Linked DNA regions of Homo sapiens: region 2 is linked to region 1. Evidence: fine-mapped expression QTL. Tissue or cell type: whole blood. Region 1 holds a variant in brackets; the other region holds the start of a gene. All regions are shown on one strand. Distances are between the middles of the regions.

Region 1 (8,099 bases):
TGGACTTGGGCTTTTAAGTTAGTGCTGACTTAAGACTTTGGGGGACAGTTGGGAAGGGATGATTTATTTTACAATATGAGAAGGACATGAGATTTGGGAGAGGCCAGGGGTGAAATGATATGGTTTGGATTTGTGTCCCCACACAAACCTCATGTTGAATTGTAATCCCCAAAGCTGGAGGTGGAGCATGGTGGGAGGTGATTGGATCGTGGGAGCTGATTTCTTCCTTGGCTGATGTTCTCATAGAGGTCTCATGAGATCTGTTAAAAAGCATATGGCACCTACCCTCTCTTTCTCCTCCTCCTGCTCTGGTCAAGTGAAGATGTGCCTGCTTCCCCTTAGACTTCCACAATGATTGTAAGATTTCTCAGGTATTTAGAGCACTGCAAGAACAGACATACACAGGTATACTCCAAATACTTCCACCGTGAGCACCATCACCTCCAAATGTGTTCACCTGTGAGCACCTTCACCTCCCAGTACATTCACCTGTGAGTACATAACCTACTGGTACATTCACCTGTGAGCACCTTCACCTCCCAGTACATTCGCCTGTGAGCACATAACCTACTCGTACATTCACTGTGAGTACCTTCACCTCCCAGTACATTCACCTGTGAGTACCTTCATCTCCCAGTACATTCACCTGTGAGCACCTTCACCTTCCAGTACATTCACCTGTGACAGATTCCCCTCCCAGTACATTCATTCACCTGTGAGCACATTTAATCCCAGTACATTCACCTGTGAACACATTCACCTCCCCGTACATTCACCTGTGAGCACATTAACCTGTGAATATGATCACCTGTGTACAGACTCTCAGGCTGCACCGGAGAATTTAACTGACGCAGAAAGATCAACAGGAGGAAAGCACGGAAGCTTATTTAAAGGAAGCTCTATATGGTGGGAGAGCCTCCCATGGAAGGAATGCCCTAAAGCCACAGAGTTGGACACTCACACCCATGTGAGCAAACAGGACTTGCAAGAAGTGGATGGGTGGATCTCTAGTGGCTCACCGGCCCTAAATCCTCATAGAGCCCAGTGACCGTTTGCTGACTAGAGGTCACACGGGTACCCGGAGTTCCTTGAAATCCCATACCTCTGTTAAACTTTGGGACTTCCAGAGCTCCCCTGAACCAACCCATCAGAACACAGGAAGTTTGAATTTTTCATTTGCATAAGCGAACCTATGTGAGAACTTTCAGTATAAAAGCTGGACCCTCTCTTTGTTCTCTGGAAAGCATCCTGGTTTTACGCTGAAGGCAGCATCTCCCACTTCACAAACTGTTCATAGGAATAGTCTTTCCTCTACATTCCTTTTCAAAGAACTTTTGTGCACCCTGAATTGGAGGTGGAGTAGTAAGCTGTGAAAAATACATTGTGTGCGGAGGCTGCCAAGAAGAGTGATTTTAAGGAGGCTATGCTGAAATCTCTCTGGGTCTGGGCCTCCCACTGTTGATAAGAAAGATGCTTTCCCAAACGTATGGGGAGGGCATCTTTCACATGAGAATTTCGTCTCCTGCTTTTAAGACATGGAATGGCGATCAGCTTAAAGCCAGAGCAATGCCTTTGGGGTGGTGGGCTCTTAGCTCCTTCAGGATCACGCCACAGAAGGAAATCGGTGAGCACCTGCTCCCGCCCTCAGAAAAAGCTGCAGTTTCTTAGGGAGTGACAGCTGTTCATGCCAGCTTTGGGGGCACTTCCCATCTGGAGCAAAGGAGGTCAACTTCGAACAGCACGAAGCCAGCTGCTTCCCAAGGTAAGAAATGTCAACAAAATTCAAGTGACCAAACTCTCCGTTTTGAAGATGGGGACTCTCAGTTTGGGGACAGGCCACACCGCTTCAAGAGAGCATGGGGTTCTGCACCCGCACCTCTGAGCCCTCCTTTCAAAGGACGCATTTGGTTCTTGCCTCGTTGGAAAGGCAGGTGGAGCTTCATTTAAGGAATAATGACCCTGCCATTACTGGCCATTTTGGGCTTGATTCATTTTCCTTTCCATAAACTCAGCCAAAGAGAGTCAAAGGCTTCCTTTAAGACACTCTCTTTTCTGTACTTGGACCTGCAGTGTGGCCCCTGGGAGGTGGACAATGACTTCACTCTCAGCTCACAGCATCCTTGCGTTCTGTGTCAGGGGAGCAAAATCCCATGTGAACTGGGCACCCTCCCTTTCCACAGACATTAACCCCCAAACGTGAGAGCGGGCTCCCAGCCACCTGGAAGGCAGCAGCATCCACGCCGCCGGAGCTGGTGTCTGAGGGGCAGATGGCATGGACAGGCTCCTCCCTTCAGGCATTGCTATGTCCTGGGAAGGAACAGAGAGAGGAATACAAGGATGATGGGAGTCAATTCAGTAATTCCAAGTGGGACATTAACATGCCAGCCCTCTGCTCACTGAGGGACAGAGTGGTCTGCCCAGAGGAAGCATGGTAGCCTGGGCCCGAGCTGCGGGACTGAGTGGCTGCCCTCCTGAAACCCACCCTCCTCTGTCCAAGAGCAGGAGCTGTGTTCAGCTGGGCAAGGCTGATGACTGAAGCCTGGCTGCTGGTGCCTGGGAATAAATCAGAGGCTGACGATGGTCACTGGAGAAGAACAGCAACAAGGCATCAGTGACGATTGCCACCTGTCAGTCGCCTCCTCAGAACCACATCCTGAGCTGAGCTGTGACTAACTTGACCTCTGCACCTCTGTGAAAAAGGATATGGCTGCCCGTTTTCCAGCAAGGAATGAGGACTGAGGGCAGCTCTTGGCTTTGGTTGGCCAGGGCTTGAACCTTCTGTTTCTGGGCAGAACTAGAGCCATAAGGGGTGATCCAAAGGGAAGGCAATTCCTGGGTTCACCCATAAACTCATAACAGAGTTGTTATACTTTCTGCTGAGATAAATGACTTCTTTTATTTCCCTTTTGGAGAACAATTGCCCAATGTTCTGGCTAGTTTTTATTTGGCTTAAATTTTGGAATGAAAGGAAAGTATGACCCATTAGTGAAGCTGGATGTGAAGATGGAGAAAGTGTGTATGCCTGTGTCTCCATGAGAAAGACAAGACTAAGCAAGAAATACTAACCCCTGAGCAGCAGGTCAGGCCCTCTTCTGGAAATGAACCTAAAGTTAGGTCTCTGTGTACTTTCTAATTATATTAGTCTGTCTTCACACTGCTATAAAGAACTATCAGAGACTGGGTAATTTATGAAGAAAGAAGATTTAATTGACTCAGTTCTGCAGGCTTAACAGGAAGCATGACTGGGAGGCCTCAGGAAACTTATAATCATGGTGGAAGGTGAAAGGGAAGCAACGCACATTTTCCTATGGTGGAGCAGGAGAGAGAGAGTGACGGGGGAAGTACCACACACTTTAAAACTTTCAGATCTCATGAAAACTCACTATCATGAGAACAGCAAGGGGGAAGTCAGCCCCCTGGATTCAGTCACCTCCCACCAGGCCTCTCACCAATTCAACATGAGATTTGGGTGGGTACACAAATCTAAACCACAAAATTTGACCCCTGGCCCTTCCCAAAGCTTACGTCCTTCTCACATTGCAAAATGCAATTATCCCTTCTCAACAGTCCCTGAGTCTTAACTCATTTTAGCATTAACTGAAATCTCCACAGTCCAAAGTCTTATCTGAGACAAGATAAGTCCCTTCCAGCTATGATCCTGTAAAATAAAAAATAGTTACTTCCAAGATATAATGGGGGTATAGGCATTGGGTAAATGCTTCCATTCCAAATGGAAGAAATTGGGCAAAAGAAAGGGGCTACAGGCCCCATGCGAGTCCAAAACTCAGCAGGGCAGGCATTAAACCATAAAGCTCCAAAGTGATCTCCTTTGACTCTGTGTCCCACATCCAGGCCACACTGACACAAGGAGTGGGCTCCCATGGCCTTGGGCAGCTCTGCCTCTGTGGCTCTGCAGGGTACAGCCACCATGGCAACTTTCATGGGCTGGTGTTGAGTGCCTGTGACTTTTCCAGGTGCATGGTGCAAGCTGTCAGTGGATCTACCATTCTGAGATCTGCAAGACAGTGGCCCTCCTCTGACAGCTCCACTAGGCAGTGCTGCAGTGAGGACTCTGTGTGGGGGCTCCAACCCCACATTTCTCCTCTGCACTGCCCTAGTAGAGGTTCTCCATGAGGACTCTGCAGGCAGACTTCTGCCTGGACATCTAGGCATTTCCAT[A/G]TATCTTCTGAAATCTAGGCAGAGGTTCCCAAACCTCAGCTCTTGACTTCTGTGCACCTGCAGGCCCCACACCATGTGGAAGTCACCAATGCTTGGGCCTTGCACCCTCTGAAGCCATGGCCCAAGTTGTACCTTGGCCCCTTTTAGCCACAGCTGGAGCTGAAGCAACTAAGATGCAGAATGCCATATTCTGATGCTGTACAGAACAGCTGGGCCCTGGGCCTGGCCCATGAAACCATTTTTCCCTCCTAGGCCTCTGGGCCTGTGTGGAAGGGGCTTCCATGAAGGTCTCTGACATGCCCTGGATACATTTCCCTCATTGTCTTGGCTATTTGGCTCATCTTTACAAGCAAATTTCTGCAGCAAGCTTGAATTTCTCCCCAGAAAATGGGTTTTCTTTTCTACCACATGGCTGCGCTGCAGATTTTCCAAATTTTTATGCTCTGCTTCCCTTTTAAATATAAATTCCAGCTTTATATAATCTCTTTGTTCACGCATATGAGCATACACTTTTAGAAACAGCCAGGTTGGCCGGGTGCAGTGGCTCATGCCTGTAATCCTAGCACTTTGGGAGGCCATGGCAGGTGGATTGCCTGAGCTCAGGAGTTCAAAACCAGCCTGGACAACACGTGAAACCCTGTCTCTACTAAAAATACAAAAAAAAAAAAAATTAGCTGGGTGTGGCGATGTGTGCCTGTAGTCCCAGCTACTCTGGAGGCTAAGGCAGGAAAATTGCCTGAACCCAGAAAGTGGAGGTTGCAGTGAGCTGAGATCGCTCCACTGCACTCCAGCCTGGGTGACAGCAAGAATCTGTCTCCAAAAATAAATAAATAAATAAAAATAATAAAACAAAGAAACGGCCAGGTCACATGGTTACATGTTGAACACTTTGCTGCTTAGGTATATTTTCCACCAGATACTCTAAATCATCTCTCTCAAGTTGAAGTTCCACAGGTCTCTAGGGCAGGGGCAAAATGCCACCAGTCTCTTTGCTAAAGCATAGCAAGAGTCACCTTTACTCCAGTTCCCAATAAGTTCCTAATCTTCATCTGAGACCACCTCAGCCTGGACTTCATTGTCAATATCACTATCGGCATTTTGGTTGAAACCATTCAACAAGTCTAGGAAGTTCCAAACTTTCCCACATCATCCTATTTCTTCTGAGTCCTCCAAACTGTTTCAACCTCTTCCCATGACCCAATTCCAAAGTTGTTTCCACATTTTCAGGTATCTTTGTAGTAATGCCCCACTTTCCTGGTACCAATTTTCTGTATTCATCCATTCTCACACTGCTATAAAGAACTACCTGAGACTGGGTAATTTATGAAGAAAAGAGGTTTAATTCACTCAGTTTCACAGGCTTAACAGGAAGCATGGGTAGGAAGCCTCAGGAAACTTACAATCATGGCAGAAGGGGAAGCAAGGTACATCTTGTGGTGGAGCAGGAGAGAGAGAGCGAAGGGGGAAGTGCTGCACACACTTAAACCGTCAGATCTCGTGAGATCTCACTATGATGAGAACAGCAAGGGAAGTTGGCCCCTTGGATTCAATCACCTCCCACCAGGCCCCTCCTCCAACTTGACATGAGATTTAGGGGTGACACAAATCCAAACCATATCACTAATCTTCCCTTGTGGCGAGATGAGCAGCTCAGTGTTTGCACAGCCTGAGGAATGAGTGAATTGCTGCAACTTAAACTTCCAGCAGGCAGATGACAAGCTGTCCATTCGACACAGTCAAAGGCTTGGTCTTACGCTGCGTGTGTGACTACAAGCAGACCCTCTCTCGCCTGCGTGAGGAAGTGGAGTTGATACCTATTACATGGCTCAACACTTTAGTCATCGGGTCCTCAGGAAGTTGGAAGCCTCTAAGCCCAGAGGCAGCCTGGACCCTTCCTCACAGATGCTTGGTGCTGGCAGTCCCACACTGTCCCCCACGGTGGCAAGCGGTGGTGTTTCTGGAATGTTCCACTTCACCCTCGTTCCTGTGTGTTCTCCTGCCCATGGTCTGTTGTCACGAGGCCTGTGCCCTGACGCTGGATCTGCCTGTCTCCGGCCGCTGCTGGGTCCTGCTCTGCACCTTCATGAGAAGCCATCTAGGAAAGTTTCTTCTTGTTTCTCCCGACTGGGGTTCATTCCCATGGGACTGGGGAACTGGGACTTTGCCCCGCTTTAAAGTTCTCCCTCTGGCTTCCTCCGTGGGCTATAGCCCTGACCCCACCCCAGCACGGAGAGAGCCAGTCGGCATCCTGGCTGCCCACTCAAGCTGGTGCCGTCACAGGGAGAGGCTGGGTTGGGAATCATGACGTCTTTGGATAGAGAGCTTTGCTTTTCACCTTCATGCCAGTTGTTTTCATGAAATCCACAGAAACTTCCTTTAGAAGAAGTCTTACCTAGAAGCCCACCCTGTAAATGAAGTGAAACAGAATTCTCTGGTGAGAGGAAGGTGGAATCTGGGACCCCACAGGTGGTTCTGTGGCCCCCTAGAGACCCCCTTCTGTGGTGGCTCCAGAATGTGGCCCCATGTGGTGTGTTGGTGGCTTCCCATGACATGTGTGCCTGTGCCCCCCACGCCATGTCCTCTTCTTGGTGCATCTGCAGCCCCCTCATGTCTGAGGCCTCCTCAGTGCTCTCTTTCTGGGCCCCTATCCCCATAGCCTCCACCTCCTGTGGCATGTCTGTGGTCCTCTCCTTGGTGCACCCATGGAGAGGTGCACCTCTGTCGTATACTGAAACACATCCGGGCTCTGCAGAGTTCAGCAGGCCACGCTTCTACTTCAGGCTGCCTTTCAGGAAGAAAAGTTTCTTCCCCAGCTTGGGGATTGTGATGGGAAAAACAAGATACCGGGGAGGGGTGATAAAAGAGGAGTGTGGTGGGAACTTGTTCTAGGAAAAACATTCAGTGGCGGACTTCCTGGAGAGGCTTGGACCTGAGCTCTTGGGAAGCTTTGCAATCTCTCCCATCGTGCTGAAGGGGAAACAGAGGCCGTGTAGGTTGCTGGGGCCAGTGGGCCTGTGCCTTGATCCGCCCGGAGCAGGCTGGAGGATTCAGTGTCTTGGTCGCCATGATCCCAGACACCATGCTAGGTGACATAGAGCCTCTGGCAAAACAAAGGGGACAGACTGGCTCCTTCCTCAAGAGGGAGTGTGTTGCTTCAGTAAAGCCACCCTGAGCTTTAAGGCAGAGTTTTAGGGTAAGAGTTCAGGCAGCTGAAAGCCATCAAGTCAGCGGGGCTGAGATCCTCCCAAACTGGGGCAAGGACCAGGGCTTGGATGTCAGAAGTAAAGTCAGAGGCCGTCTGGGCCAAGGGGACCCCTGAGCACACACTATAAGCATGGCGGGCGGTGGCAGGACTGCACCTGGGCACTGAGTGTCCACCACCTGACACCCCTGGGGAGCAGGGGCTGGCATCCCAGGGCTGCACCGCGACCCAAGGAGAGGCTCCTTGACCAACAGTTGCAGGTTGCAGCTCCCAGGTGTGGAGCACACTTGAAGATTCTCACTCTGGTGACCCAAAGCAGGATCAGCTGTGGATGCTTGTGTTTTGTTTCGCTTAAAGTTTCCCTTTTGTGGCTGGGCGCAGTGGCTCACGCCTGTAATCCCAGCACTTTGGGAAGCAGAAGTGGGTGGATCACCTGAGGTCAGGAGTTCGAGCACAGCTGGCCAATGTGGAGAAACCCTGTCTCTACTAAAAATACAAAAATTAGCTGGTCCTGGTGGCGCACACCTGTAATTCCAGCTACTCAGGAGGCTAAGGCAGGAGAATTGCTTAACACCGGGAGGCAGAGTTTGCAATGAGCTGACAGGGTGCCACTGCACTCCACCTGGGTGACAGAGCAAGACTCCGTCTCAAAAAAAAAAAAAAGGTTCCTTTTTGTCCCATGTCCATGTTCTCGGCATGCCGGGACCACTGCCTGTCC
Region 2 (8,099 bases), 240 kb before region 1:
TGTGGACGGACCACTCGCGCACAGTATTGATCCACGTTAGCCAGCACAGCAGTGTGCCCACCACGTGGCTTCTGGTTAAAGGTTAAAAACAGGCAAAGCCAAAGCACAGTGCTCAGGAATTGCAGCTTCGACGGGAAAACGGACGGTGAGTAAGACCCCATCCCACTCCCGGAACACGAAGAGAGGCGGCCCAGAACGGCTGGCACTAGAACTGCAGGTGGACTGTGCCAGGTGCCAGGTGGGGCCCTCCCAGCAGGCGGCCTGGGGACACGTGGGCACTGACGAAGGTGGCAGGAACAAGCCTGGTGGGAGGTGAGGCTGAGATGAGCTTCACCCCAGTGGCTCTGTCCATGGCCCAGGCTCCTCAGGCACTGAGAAGGCAGAGGTGCCACCCCGCCGAGGGGCAGAGAAAACCGGCCCTTGGGCAGCCTTAGGAGAAGCGGGGGCCGGTGTGCGCAGGAGAGGGTGGACGCCCCAGATGCAGCCACGGTGGCCAGGTCACCTGCGAGATGCCATGGGTGGGAGATGCAGGTGGCTGTGCAGCGGTGCCCTGGGCTCAGGGGGAGGGGCTGGGTCAGGTCCCCGGGGCTGGCTGGGGCCTGGACATGGCTCCCTGGCCCTGAGGCACCAGCAGCACTTCTGAGTGGGGTGGGACTGGCCTGGTGTGTTTCTGGGCGGGGATCCAGTGTGAGTGGGTGAACAGTGAGTGGCAGCCATGGGCACGCTGAGGTACGCACACTTCACCCACCTCTGTGGGCCAGGAAGGCATGTCACATACTCCTGACAAGGCAGAGGGTGCTGGGAGCTCGCCTGTGTCAGACATGAGGGCCCTTGGACCAGGGCCTGGGTTTGAAGCCACCTCCATACCCCATACACGGTGCTCACTGCTCCTGGCCCCATTGACTGATGACTGATGGCCAGAGGGGGACAGCAGCTGTGTGAAGTCGCCTGGCAGGTGCGGCTGTTGGTGGCACTCCCTGGGCGGAGGCCACGTTGGACATTTGTGAACAAACGAGCAGGTTGGGGTTACAGGTTATAGGATCTGGGAAATGTGGTCTGTGATGCCATGCGCCCTGGGGGATCTCATGGAGCCCACATGGGCAGGCACCTTTTATCATGCCAAGAAGTCAAACGTGGGATGCCATGTGGGGAACATGCCCTGGGTGGGGGAATACCCTGGGTGGAGATGCCATGTGGGGAGGATGCTCTGGGTGGGGAATCTTTGTGGGGGTTGTCCTGGGTGGTGGAGCCTTGGTGAAGGAATGGCCTAGGGGGTGGCTCTGGGAGGGGGTGGCTCTGGGATGTGGATGTCCTGGGAGGGGGATGTCACCTTAGGGGGAAAGCCTGTTGCAGATGCCCTAGGAGGGAAGCCCTGTGTGAGAGATCATCTGGGTGGGGGCTGCCCCGGGTGGGGGATCATCTGAGTGGGGGCTGCCCTGGGTGGGGGATGTCCCCGGTGGGGGATCATCCAGGTGGCAGATCATCTGGGTGGGGGATCATCTGGGTGGGGGATCATCTGGGTGGAGGATCATCTGGGTGGGGGATCAACTGGGTGGGGGCTGCCCTGGGTGGGGGCTGCCCTGGGTGGAAGATCTTATCAGGGGGATGCAGTGGGTTATGGCCCTGTGGCAACCCCAAACACACACACACCAAGAAGAAGCTGGTCTCCCTAGGAGGAGGATCCACGCAGGGCAGCTTGGGGTTTGGCTCGTGGATGCTGGGGACAAGGCCTGAGCCCCAGATGTGGCTGGGCCTGACCCAGGCAGCTCCACCCCTTCCTTCCCAGGAAACACCTTTTGCTCGAGCAGTAGGAACTAGGCGTGTGTAGATTCTGCTGCCTGATCCTGGCTCCTGGCTGAGGGTTTGTGGGCTCAGATGGACTAGACACCCGGCCACAACCCTCCTGGGCATAGCCTTCTGGCTCCCCCAGCCCAGGCGGAGGCATTGAGCGACTCTCCTCACCCAGAGTGTTTTCCCGAAGGCGCTTCTGCCTGAGGGCACCAGGCTGGGCCAGGTACTGCAGGGCGCTGACCAGCACTGGCCTGGGGGCCCCAAGAGCCCCAGATGGCATCCCTCTCACACACTCCCCCTGTCTCACCAACAGCTATAAATAGACTCGGCTCTCTGCTGGCACGGCCTCTCCCGAGGAAGCTTTTAATTCTCTGCGTCCTCTGCAGGGGGTGGCTCCCACAGGCCTGGGAGGGAACAGACTGCCTGACTCTCCAGAGAGCTCCCCAGTCTCCATCTGCGATGGGTGATCCTAATTTTCTTCAGGAAGTTCTCCTGAGCCCTGCGTGTGGCGCTTTGGCCTTTGTGCCCACGGAAGCCCCCTGCGGCCCCTCCCTCCGGGCCCTGCCCAGCCCGGTGCACGAACCCTGTTTACCGATTCCCAGGCCTAGGGCAGCCACTGCCAGTGTGAGGCTTGCAAATTAGGGTAGGGGGTCAAAAGGAAGCCCCTGTTGACCATTTCTGTGAGCATTCTATGCTCATTTCCACAACGAGCATTTATAACCTCGTATAATCGCTAAAACATTTATTGCAACTTCAGGGAATTCGGGAAGATAGACCAACCGCAGCTGTAAGATTAAAACGCAGCCAGTGACCAGCGGAGCTTCCTCCACGCACACGCGGTCCAATCCCCATGACTTCATGTTTTGTGAAGATGCAAAGCGAGTTCATGCCGGCGCCTTTCTGAATCAGAGATCCGTTTAGAAACCATGAAAGCTGCAGACCCCTCCCGGGAAAACGCACACACCCTCCTGGAGCTCGCCTTCTGCAGCCGCTCCGGGAGCCCGCCCCTCCCCCACAGGCCCTCCGAGGATCACGTGGTGGGGAGGCGCTGGCACCGAGCGGCTGACAGGCGCGAGAGCCCAGTTCAAGGCGGCGGCATCAGGCTGCAGCTGCCTCACTCCCCTCCACTTCCTGCCCCTTCCCGGCCTTGGTCCAGCCCCATCTCCTAGTCCCAGGCCACAGGGAGCTGGGTCACCTCCCAGGGGCAGGGGCTGGCTGGGCGTGGGGGGAGACCTCTCCCCCTGAGAAGTCAGGCGGGGAGGGGTGGCCGGGGTGGGCGGAGGGGCCCAGTCCTCTATCGGTCCCCCAGGGGCCCTGCAAGCAGAAGAGCCAATAAACATGCCAGGTGGATCAGCGGTGACACTGAGAGGGAACGCAACACCCCATCAAAACAGCAGCCCCCCAACCCCCATCAAAACAATAGCCCCCAACCCCCATCAAAACAGCAGCCCCCAAACCCCATCAAAACAGCAGCCCCCAACCCCCATCAAAACAGCAGCCCCCAAATACCCATCAAAACAGCAGCCCCCCAAACCCCATCAAAACAATAGCCCCCAACCCCCATCAAAACAGCAGCCCCCAACCCCCATCAAAACAGCAGCCCCCAAATACCCATCAAAACAGCCCCCAACCCTCATCAAAACAGCAGCCCTCAACCCCCATCAAAACAGCAGCCCTCAACCCCCATCAAAACAGCAGCCCCCTAAACCCCCATCAAAACAGCAGCCCCCCAAACCCCCATCAAGACAACAGCCCCCCCAACCCGTATCAAAACAGCAGCCCCCAACCCCTCATCAAAACAGCAGCCCCCAGACCCCATCAAAACAGCAGCCCCCCAACCCCTATCAAAACAGCAGCCTCCCAACCCCTATCAAAACAGCAGCCCCCAACCCCCTATCAAAACAGCAGCCCCCCTAAGCCCCCATCAAGACAGCAGCCTCCCAACCCCACATCAAAACAGCAGCCCCCCAGACCCCATCAAAACAGCAGCCCCCAACCACCTATCAAAACAGCAGCCCCCAACCCCTATCAAAACAGCAGCCCCCCAACCCCCTATCAAAACAGTAGCCTCCCAACCACCTATCAAAACAGCAGCCTCCCAACCCCCTATCAAAACAGCAGCCCCCAAACCCCTATCAAAACTGCAGCTCCCAACCCCCTATCAAAACAGCAGTCCCCCAACCCTATCAAAACAGCAGCCCTCCAACCCCCTATCAAAACAGCAGCCCCCCAAACCCCTATCAAAACAGCAGCCCCCAACCCCGTATCAAAATAGCAGCCTCCCAACCCCTATCAAAACAGCAGCCCCCCAAACCCCCATCAAGACAACAGCCCCCCCAAAACCCTTATCAAAACAGCAGCCCCGCCACTGCCCGGGAGGGACAGGCTTCTCACCTCCCTCGGCTCCGTTTACGTAACCGAAACCGCAGAATAAAGGGCTCCTCAGATCTTCGGGCGCTGCTCCCAGGGGTGCGGGAAGGTGTCCCGGCAGCGCCTCTCCATCGCCACAGGCCCGCGGACAGTAGCCAAGACCCGGGGCAGCTGGAGGCTCTGCGGGGGGCGGTCTGACAGCCCCACCTGCCAGGACGCGGTGGTGTCAGGACCCTGAGATGGGCCGTTTCTGTGGCCAGGGATCTCTCAAAACCTGCTGCGGGCAGTGACTTCATTCCAGCCCTCCACGCCCTAATTTCCCACGCCTCACACCGGCGGCCCCCTAGGCCTGGGAATAGGGAAACGGTTCGAGTCCCGAGCTGGGGAGGGTCTGGAGGGAAGGGCTGCAGGGGCGTCCGTGGCCGCGAAGAAAGGCCAAAGCGCCAGGCACAGGGCCCGGAGACGGTGACAGACCTGTCCCTGGCGCGGCCGACGGTGACCCCCGCTCGCGGCCTTTGCAAAGCCTCCCCGTCGCGTCCTCGCACCGAGCCCGCAGCGCCGAACTCCGGGCATCCCAATCCGGGGGCTCAGGGACGCGCGGGGCGGTCCGGGAAGGGGGCTCGGGGGAGCGCGGGGGGCAGGGGCTGCGGCGCAGGTGGCTGCTGGGGCTGACGGGCCCAGTCTCCGCCCCCGGGTGCCCCCCGCGCCGCGCCCGCGGGACCGAGCCCCGCGCCCGCTTACCTTGGAGACGCAGCGACTGCAGCGGAGGCGCCTCCGCGACTCGGCCGCGCGCGACCCGGTGCTCAGCGGAGCTCTCCAGCCGCCGCCCCGCGCCCGCCCGTCCCGCCCAGCACCGCCCAGCCCCGCCCAGCCCGGTCCCGGGCCCGCCCCCGGCCCCCAGCGTCCGGCGCCCGCCCAGCGTCCCGCCCCGCGCGCTCATTGGCAGCCCCGCCCCCGCCGCCCCACCCGGCCCGGGGACGCGCGGGCGCACCGAGACCTCTGCCTTACAAGGCCGACTCTGCTCAGGCCCCGCGGACCGCCGGGTATCCGCTCAGCGCAGGGCGCGGCCGACCCGCGGGTCGTGGGAACCGCTGGGCAGGGGGCGGCGGGGCCCCTCACCTGGCTCTGGGGCCCCCCGGGGACGACCGGACCCCGATCTCTCCGCCCCGCAGGACGCGCGTTGACGGTGCGGCGGGGGATGGATGAGCGCGGCCGCGGCCTCCTGGGGTGGGGTGGGTTGGCGGCGGGGCCTCGAGGACGGTGCGGGGCGAGCCCCGACCGCGCCCAGTTCTTTAAGGAGCCGCAGACGGTGCAGGGAAGCGGCAGGGCCGGGCTGTGAGGGTGCTCGGACCCCAAGGCGGGGCGCACCCAGGGGACTGGGCTTCCAGGTGGGGGCAGCGCGGCCGGGGATCGACCTGAGCAGGGAGACGGGTCCGTGCCGGGCGCCCAGCGCAGCTGCTCGGGAGTGGGCCGCCCTTCACGCAGGAGTGGAGGAGCGGAGCGCGCACCCCTGACCCCGGCCTCAGCTTCCGTTCTCCCTGCAGGTCGCCCGTATGCAGCGCCACCATCCCGGCCGCTCTTCCAATCTCGCCTTTCTCCGGGCACCTGCCGCCCCTCCCCCGCTCCCCAGACAGGCTTTGCGGAGGGGGCTCATTCCGCCCGGGGCTGCCCGGCCCTCCGCAGGAGTTGGCTCCCCACAAGGTTCCGGGGCCGAGATGACAGGGCGGTTCTGTGGTGCTGGGTGCTGGGACTTGAGGGGCATAGGGGCACCTGCCCTGGAGGAGGCCGAGGCGCAGCCCCCCAGGAGGAAGGGGTGCCTCTGGTGACTTTCAGCTGGACTCTTCCAGCTGGACTCTAGTGCAGCTGAGCTCCTCCCCCAGCCCCGGCTCTGTCCCTGCACCAGGTGTCCAGCAGGCCCTGGAATCCGCAAAGGCAGAAGGGGAAGTTGGGGTGCTGGGTGCTGGGCAGGGGGTGCTGAGGCCTCACAGCCCGGCGGCTTGGCCCCCACCCACCCCACGGTGGTCCCGCGCCCCACACTTCCTCTCCTCTCCTGTGGTTTCTCCTTCCACTCAGTGCTGCCCAGAGATGGGCTTCTGTCTAGTTCTCCTGAGAAATTCCACACTCGCAGCTGGGAAGTCGGGGGACCCCCGAAGCTGTGCGGCGGCCACGCTGCGGCTCCTGCTTCCCTCCTGCTCGGGTGCGGGCTCGGCTGCCTTCTCGTCCCGCGGAGCCCGGAGTGCCTCCCCCTCGGGTAGATCCTACTAACAGCATCAAAGAAATAATGAAATAATCTCTCCTTGGTGTGTTCTTACCGTCCTAATAGGCACAAGGGGACTCTTCAGTGCATTTTCCAAAACCTGTACAAACTCTCTTGACATAAATGCAGTGAGTTTACAATAAAATCGCAGTGGGAGGTAACGTCAGGCTTCAGAGGCAGACATGGTCCTGGAGCCTTTGGGAGGAGAGGAGAGGAGAGGCAGCGGGCGCGGGGCGGCGTCCAGGGGGCTGAGCGAGGTCTGGGCAGGAGGACAGAGCTGAGCCTTGGGCTGCCCTGGCCCCTGCGCAGGACACACAGTGACCGGGGCTGGGGTGGGCACCCCGGTTCTACCGTCGGGAGTCGGCGTGTTCATGGAGTCTGTTTCCTTGTCTGTGGGTGAAACTTTGGCTTGGGGTCACGGGTGTGTTATTTCCCAGCGACAGTCGGTTCAGTCAGCACTTACAAAATCACCAGAAACAGGGGCACAGGATCTTGCTCAGCAGGGAGAGGTGGATCCTGATTCGGGACTCCAGGCTCTTCACCTGGCCATGGCTGCCCGTCCGGTGGCCCTTCCTGGCCCCCAGCTCTTGCTCCACTGCCAGACCTGGACAGCCTCCATTAACCCTGCAATTACTGAAAACCGACTCACAGCCAATGATGTGATCCACGCCAAGTGTCCCGTTATAAGATGTTTCCTGGGGATCCTTAGAAAATCACTACAAATGGGTTGAACAACAGGGCTTTCCTCTTACGGCTTAGGAGGCCAGAAGTCCGAGATCAAGGCCTGTGCGCTCCGGAGGTTCCCACCTCTTCCAGCTTCTGTGGCTCCAGGCGGTCCTGGGTGGTGGCCGCATGGCTCCACCTCTGCCCCTGTCCTCACGGGGCCTCCTCCCCCGAGTTAGTGTGTCTGTCTCTTCCTTTGCTTATCGGGACACCTGTCACTGGATTTAAGGGCCGCCAGGAGAAGCTGGGATAATCTCAAGATCTTTAATCGAATTACATCTACAAAGATCCTATTTTAACGTAAGGTCTTACTCTGAGGTTCCGGGTCAATGTGACTTTCTTGGGTGGGGGTCACTACCACCCCAGCACCAATGCTTTTCCCAGCTCCACCTGTGTTACCGTGTCAGTGACCAGGAGCGTTCCCCGGGACACCTGCCTGCTTGTAGCTGTTTCCACGGCTTCCTGCACAGGTTCTGCGTCCGCAGTTGGGAGCACCAGGCCAGGCAGCTGTCACATAGGAGGAGGACAGCTCTCCGGGACAAGCCCCTGCTGCCTGGCACCCGCGCCCACCCCTGCCTGGGTTTGGGGTTGGGTTTTGTGGGTAGAGGTTCAGGCTGACAGTGGAGGTTGGGAAGAGCAGACACAGCATGGTGGGTAGCACTGGAAGCCCTGGGTGGAAGGGATGGTGGGAGATGCTGGGCCATCTGGGTCTGCAGTGGGAGACCAGGACAGGAGCCCAGGTCCATTGGGAGGCCCCATGCTGAAGACAGAGGCACGGGGAGCGGGGGGAGCAATGGACTCACGCGGACAGCAGCAGACATGAAAAGGCCTCCGAGGCCAAGTGTGAGGATGCCGGGTCCCAGCACTGAGGTGTCCTGCAGCTGGACCTGTCAGGTGTCCACCCACCCCTGGCAGCTGAATGTCCTTTGACGGCCTATAGGCTGAGCAGCTTCTTTGG

Evidence for each region. PIP is the estimated chance that this variant, and not a neighbour inherited with it, causes the effect.
Region 2: TPPP starts here. The variant in region 1 is fine-mapped to the expression of TPPP in whole blood (TOPMed, PIP above 0.99).

What each region holds. Positions count from the first base shown.
Region 1 is chr5:930,170-938,268 of GRCh38, forward strand. No RefSeq gene overlaps it. Among named protein-coding and RNA genes, the nearest start is that of TRIP13, 41 kb to the left of the region's middle. The variant A/G (reference allele first, on the strand shown) is at 4,180.
Region 2 is chr5:688,376-696,474 of GRCh38, forward strand. TPPP (tubulin polymerization promoting protein) reads right to left here and starts at 4,977. Exons shown (of 4, transcript NM_007030.3): 1 at 4,903-4,977. LOC101929898 (a long non-coding RNA gene) reads left to right here and starts at 5,165. Exons shown (of 2, transcript XR_925675.4): 1 at 5,165-5,347; 2 at 5,706-8,099. RefSeq lists enhancers at 4,403-4,985, 5,899-6,777 and a silencer at 4,980-5,229.